Linked DNA regions of Homo sapiens. The protein of the gene in region 2 interacts with the protein of the main gene of each other region in a pairwise test. Each region holds a gene or a part of one and is shown on either strand. Other genes may lie near its edges. The genes, in order: SH2D3C and SNCAIP.

Region 1 (3,500 bases), on a different chromosome or scaffold from region 2:
CAAGGCCAGCAATGGCTCCCGTTTTGCTCAGAGCCAAAGCCAGGTCCTTGCTGGGCTCTTCCAGGCCCTACGTTATCTGCTCCCATTTCCATCCCAGCCTCCCAGCCCACCCCTCCCTGTCCTCCCCACCTTGCTCTGCCCCGGCCACAGTGGTCTCTACTGTTCCCCAAACATGCCACGTCAGGGCCTTTATACACGCTGTTCCCTTGGCCTGGTATGCTCCTTCCCAGCCAGCAAGAGGGTTTGTCCCTTCGTCTCCTTTGTTCAAACACCACTTCCTCACTGAGCCTTTCTTTCTGGCTAACCTTCTTAAATTGGCACCACCAGCCACTCCCCACTTTCGCCAACCAATTCTAGAGCTGATTTTAAATTTTCTCGTTAAGGCTTTTCTCTTCTAGTCGACCACAGAACTCATTTATCTTGTCTATCTTCTGTCTCCCCTGCCCTGGAATGGGGACTCCATGAGGGCAGGGTTTTGTCTGCCATGCTCACTGCTATCTCCCAGGACCTAGAACAGTGTCTGAGGCATAGCTGTACCTCAGTCAAAATGACAATGAATATCATTCCCATTCAACTAACTGCATCAACTCAAGCAAGTTATTAGCCTCACAAAAATCTCAACATCTTCATCTGTAAAATGGGCTCCTTTCCAGAGAGTCATGGGAAGTCATTTGAAATAATGGTAGAAAAAGCTGGCTGGGTGCGGTGGCTCACGCCTGTAATCCCAGCATTTTGGGAGGCTGAGGCGGGCAGATCACCTGAGGTCAGGAGTTCGAGATCAGCCTGACCAACATGGAGAAACTACGGCTCTACTAAAAACACACACACACACACACAAAATTAGCCAGGCGTGGTGGCGCATGCCTGTAATCCCAGCTACTCGGGAGGCTGAGGCAGAAGAATTGCTTGAACCCAGGAGGCGGAGGTTGCGGTCAGCCGAGATCACACCATTGCACCCCAGCCTGGGCAACAAGAGCAAAACTCCATCTCGAAAAAAAAAAAAAAAAGAAATAAAGAAAAAACAAAAGAAAAACTTTGAGATTTTTACTTGCAGGAGGGGAAATGTGACCTAGTGGTTTAGAGCTTGGGCTTAGTCAGGCCTGGGATCAAATAGTGAGGCCTGACACCCAATTTCTCTGTGACCCCAGGAGAGTCCCTTCCCCTCTCTGAGTCTCAGTCTCCTCACTGGCAAAATGGAGCAAGTAGAGGCTCCCACCTCACACCCCAGTCTAGTGTTGAGCTAGACAACACCTGTCAGGTGCTTGCTGGTTGTCAGCTGGTGATCATGCCTGGTGGGACCCTCGCCTGACAATTCCAGTGTGGGTAGGCGTGGGGTAGGGAGTGCTGGGGCTTCCTGTCCCTCTCTAGGCCTCTGCTTCCTCCTCTGTAGGATGGATTGAGGAGGGAGGGTGCCTCTCTGGGACCTGCAGAAGACTGAAGGTCCTTGGGAGGTAGGGGGCAGGCTAGGCTGGTGCTTTCCTTTTTTAGCCAGGGGAGCTAAAGGTCCCTCCTCCCTCCTTCCTCTTCATCCCCATGATCTCAGCAGGGAACAGGACACCAGGAAACCCCTGCAGCCTCACCTCTTCCCCTTCCTTCCTCCTGCTCCAGGTGCACCCTGTCTCCCCGGGGTGGGGGAGGGACACTGTCTCCCCAGCTTAGGCCTGGGATGGCCTCCTCTAGACACTCAGGAACAGGGCCCCCGAACTTGCTCACTGGCATTTCCCAAATGTCCTCCCCAAACTGAATGGATCCTCAGAGACCATCTCAGGCCCATCTGGGCTACTGGGGAGACTAAGGACCAGAATGGGGCAGGGCTAGTCTGAGATCTCATGGGCCAGGCTGCTCCCCTGACTCCAGGGCACAGGGTTGAGGTTCAGGGACTTCTGGAAGGAATGTTCAACAGTCCCTGGAGGGCAGATGGAGCACTGGGTCCCGGGGCACCAGAAGGGGGCTCAATCTGGTCTGCTAACCCCATCCTCCTCGGGACACTCCAGATGCTGGAGGAGAAGAGTCTCTTCATTTCCTTGGTCAGCTCCTGGCTAAGCATGATGCCAGAGGCACTGTTAGGCCCACCAGGGCTCTGTCCACAGGGGAAGAAGGCTTGGGCTGGGTCCTGGACTTGCCATTCTCAAGGTTTCTCAAGACCACCTTTCTCAGCGGCCCTGGCCCTGCTGGAGAGGAATGTGCTGCCCAGGTGTTAAGAGCATGGGCCAGGAAGCTGGGTTTAAACCCTGGTTCTGACGCTCACTGGCTGTGTCAAACTCGGCAGGCAAATCTTTCTTTCCTCATCTATAAAATGGGGGTGATAGTAGTACCTCCCTCCTGGGGCTGTTGTGTAGAGTAGATAAGCAGATGCCTGACCTGCGGTGACAAAGTTACACCCAAAGAAAACTGGCTTAGAAAAGTCCCTGATGCTAACCCCGCCCCCAAATTTGTCAGCTGCCCCAGGGGTGCAGATTTCCTCCTTCGACCTCTCCTGCTCCCCGCTGGCCCTCCCCAGGCCCAGCTCGGTCACTCACCCTCGGGACCCCAGCGCGGGGCACCTTCGGCCCACAGCAGTCATGCTTCCCCCGCTGTCGCCGCCGGCAACCCGGGGACCTCCTAAACCCAGCGGCTCCTGCCTTTCTCGGGCCACTGAGCTGCAGAGCTCAGTGCCGGACTCCGGGGGCGGAGACTGACCTGTAGACCACGCCCCCAGACACGCCCCTGCGCTCCTTGCCCGGCCCCACTCCACCGCCTACTCCACCGGCAGGGAAGGACGCTCTCCGCCTCGAACACGGCCCTCCGCCTGCGGTCTCGCTCCGCCCCCTCCCCATCAGTCAGTGTCGGGAAGGCCTCGCCCCCTAGCACACCCCTCCGCCTCGCCCGCCCGGCTCCAACGCTCGCTTCCCCAGCAGCTCTCCGCGCAGCCTGGGGTAGGCCACGCCCCTAGACACGCCCTCAACTCCGCCTCGCCTCGCCCCACCCCGCCCCGCCCCGCTCCCGCGAAACTCGGCTTCCCTGGGTGGGAGGGGCCAGGCTCCTGGTGCAGTCTCATACCTTGGGGTGTCTTAGAACGCCCCAGGACCCATCATCAGGCCCTCTCAGCTACATACAATCCTTGGTCCTTTACTCCCGAATGAGGACGAATGTAGGAGGGGATGACAGAAGGCAGCCGGGGATGGTGGAAAAACATGAGTTCTACTAATCGTAAATACAGCATTCCCATTTACTGAGTGCAGCATGCCAGCCACTGTGTTGAGATTTTACAGGTATGTTATTCTTGAATCCTCACCACAACCCGACCAGGTAGATGCTATTGTTACGTCCATTTATCAGATGAGAAACTGAGGCTCCAAGAGAGGAAGAGATTTGTCCAGTCATGCAGCCAGTAAGAGGCAGAATCTGGACTGGATTCACTCTACCCCTTTACATGGTCCTCCTCACTGATCAGGGGTCTAGGCAATTACAGCTCAGAGACAGAGGCTGTGCTTGGTGTCTCAGGAAAAAGCTGCTCAAGA
Region 2 (3,500 bases):
CTTGCAAAATTTAAATACTGCATGTGCAAAGGCAAATTGACATAGGATATAAATCTCCAGTTCTCTCAGAGGGAGTAGTGATGACTCTAAAACCACTGGAAACAGAAAGTTCATCGTGATGACTCTAACAGCTCCCTGATGCAGGCTACTCTTCTCTTGTATATTTAATGTTCTATATATGTCAGTTGGCCTTGTTTGCAATCTCAACAGGAGGCTTGTTCACTGGACGAGTTTTTGTTTTTGTGTTTGGTCTGTCCTGTTTTTTTGTTTTTTTTTTCCATGTTGTTGAATAAGACTTATGATTTCACATACTAGACTGCTTATAAGTTCTTCTAGTATTTGGTATTAAAAGAGGTGAAACAAAAACTAAACAAGGTGTATACAGTCTCAATACAATTCTAGGTTAGAAGCCTAGATGTGTGACTGGAGATGCCTCCTGTCCATTCAATCTGACTCCAATGTGGTTCTGCAGCACTGGACAAAGATGGGAGATTGAAACAGGAGCCCCTGCGATGGGGGAACAGAGCCAGGGAGCAGGGGTTGGACAGGTAAGCCTCCATATACCAAGCCCTTCAACTCCTGGAGTTACAGTTATCCCTCCTTTGTTCATTAATGATTCACCATGTACCCACTGCCAATGGTGGGCTTTCTAAACACTGCACTCTACATGAGAGATAGAAAGATGACAAAGACATATTCCCTTCCCTCAAGAACCCAGGTTTGAGAAAACAACCTTGTGAACCTTCTATTGGAGCAGCAATAAAGATCTGAGCTAAGTGTCGAGGGAGGCTGAGGAGGTGGTCACTAAGTCTGTCTTAGGCATCCCAGGGTCTCCTCAGAGTCCAAGCCTGAAGTCCACTGCAGGGGTCACCAGCCACCTGTGGCCACATTGGAATGTGGCCATTCTGAATTGAGGTAAGTAAAAAACATACACCAAATTTCAAAGATGTAATATGGGAAAAAAAGAATGTAAGGTACTTGGTTAATGATTTTTTATATGGATTACATATGGAAATGCTACCATTTTGGCTATATTGGGTAAGATATATTATTAAAATTGATGTCACCTGTTCCCTTTTACTTTTTTAAGCGCGCCTGCTATAAAATATGAAATTGCCTGCATGGCTCCCATTCATGGATCCTATTACATTTCTATCTGCCAGTGTAGGTTGGTGCAGTCACAAGACAATGCTTCAGGAGAAAATCTGGGGAGGCGGTCTCAGGGCAAGAGGGTGAGTGGGGGAAATGCCTATGGAATGAGAAAGAGACAACAGGGGGACCGACCCATCAAGGGCTACAAAGAAGGTGAATTTGCTTTCTGAGTTGTGCTTGCCTGCCGGACTCATTTGCAGCAAGAGAGACCAGAATATAAAGGCCACGATAATAACATCTCAAATAAATTAGAAGCAGCTTGTGGTTTATAGTGAGCAATGCTCTACTGGGGACCAGACCAAGCAGTTACCCCTGTCTTCACTCCATCTGTGGTTAAGTCATTTGGTCACTGTTGCCTTCTCATCTGCAAAGCGGGGACTGAGATTAACTGCTTGGCCTGCATATCCCCCTGACTCTGTCAACTAAGTTTTCGGAAACCTGAAGCACTCTAAACATCCTGGGGGAAGAAAGGGCTGGAGAAACATACAATGTTTTGTGATCAGAGTTTTTAAGCTGAAAAGAATGAAGAAACTTGAATAGAATAAATTCTTGATACTTCCTTTTTCATAACACTTACCACGCTTTATTTCGATTATTTATTAGCCCCCTTCCTAGCTAGATATAAGCTAGCTATAAATACCATGAGCTCAGGACCCACATCTGTCTGCTCACTGCTGTGACCGCAACTTAGAGGACAGAGCCCAGAATACAGGCCTCAATAAATACTGTGGAAGAGGGGTCACATGGAGAATTTGCAGTCATTTTTGCTGTTGAGCATCTGTTAAGTTAAAGTTTCCAAGTGTGCAAACTGTACTCGGAAATGAGTAAGAAGTAGAAACTTACCTAGAGATGATCAAACCAGTAGTGCTGTCACTCTAATGATGTTATCTGTCCCACTGTGAAAACATTGTCACAGGTGAAGGAGGAGAGTGAGGTGAGACCTTCCCAGCCCTTGACTGCTCTTGCACTGGACACATTCCAGGAAGCTCTTGTGGCAGAAGCAGCCACTTAACTTACTTTTAACAAGAGAAGCTGAAGGCTGAGGGAAGTCAGGACCAACAGAGGATCCAAATTTCAGTGGCACAAGTCTTAAGCTTCATTTGGTTGCATGAATGAGTGCGGAAGCAGCATGAAGTAGTGGTGATACAAACCTGGGTTCTGTGTTTAATTCTATTCTCAGTACTTTCCCAGTGGGAGACTGTGAGTTCCCTCTCTGAACCTCGTTCTCCTCCATGGCTTAAAACTGGACTCATAATGCATGGCTTAGCTATAATGTACCTTTCAAAAAGGGCTGGCATCCGGTAAACACTGAATAAATGGTTACATGTCAAACACAGTAAACATTCAACAATGGCTAATATCTTCCTTCTGCATCAGCTTTTAAAACAGATTTTTTAACCTGGAGTCCAAGGAGTCCCAGGAAATCCACAGACGAGATTCAATGGATCCTTGAAATCCCTAAAATTAAATACAAAGCGGGGTATGTGTGGACATCTTTTCTCTTCAAGGAAAGAATCCATAGCTTTCATATGATGCTCTTAAGACTCTCAGACTGAAAACAGTTTAAGAACTATTGAGTTTCTGTGGCTTCCAAAGTGTTTAGCTCCTTCTATTTATCTATGGAATAGCTCTGTGAATGACTCTCAAAACCAAGCTTTTCTGTGCCTCCTCAAGAGGCCTGCATTTTATATGCAGCAGTACAACTTCCTTCCATAAGACGCTTTTATTTTCTGGCAGCAGCAGTATCACAGGAAGATGACTGGAATTTATAAGTAAGAAACTGATCTTAATTTCAACAATAGTACTGGAGCCCTTACCTCTTTAAATACACCTTTTTCCATAGTTTTTTTTTTTATAGGATTGATGACCAAAGAAGGCAGCTATAATGTTTTATTCTCAAGATGATGGTTACTCATCTTAGAATAAAAACAACAACAACAAAAAATAACAGATGAATGGGAAGAGCCCAATCAAAGCTTTATTCTACTCCTCAACAACTCAGGTGAGTGTCTGGCCACTTGGCAGTCGCCAGGAGGAAGGAGCTTAGTGGCAGACAAACTGCTTCAAATCTCTAAATCTTTGTTTCCTCATCTGTTAAAAAAAAAAAAAAAAAAAAAAGATGATAACAGTGACGCCTCCTACCTAGGGCTGCTGTGAGAACTAAATAAGAAAGTAATTGTAAGGCATCTTTTAAGTACTCAAAACAGAGTGCCTCATAAATATTAATTATTAAATATCCTCTCTGATGATAGGGGGAAAAGGATTCCTTATCTGGTCTCTGACCCATAGATTTTAGCCTGGAGATTTACTCTGGGTCACTGATATTTTCCAGCCTCCTCCTTAAGGTT

What was found.
Region 1: the proteins of SNCAIP (region 2) and SH2D3C interact in a two-hybrid assay, tested with the Homo sapiens proteins (one large-scale study listed by BioGRID).

What each region holds. Positions count from the first base shown.
Region 1 is NC_000009.12:127,768,667-127,772,166, forward strand, and holds part of SH2D3C (SH2 domain-containing protein 3C), read right to left. Parts: intron 2,629-3,500; exon of another isoform or gene 2,564-2,628; coding exon of another isoform or gene 2,520-2,563; intron 1-2,519. UniProt on the Homo sapiens protein: Acts as an adapter protein that mediates cell signaling pathways involved in cellular functions such as cell adhesion and migration, tissue organization, and the regulation of the immune response.
Region 2 is NC_000005.10:122,318,737-122,322,236, reverse strand, and holds part of SNCAIP (synphilin-1), read right to left. Parts: intron 947-3,500; exon of another isoform or gene 403-946; intron 1-402. UniProt on the Homo sapiens protein: Isoform 2 inhibits the ubiquitin ligase activity of SIAH1 and inhibits proteasomal degradation of target proteins. Isoform 2 inhibits autoubiquitination and proteasomal degradation of SIAH1, and thereby increases cellular levels of SIAH.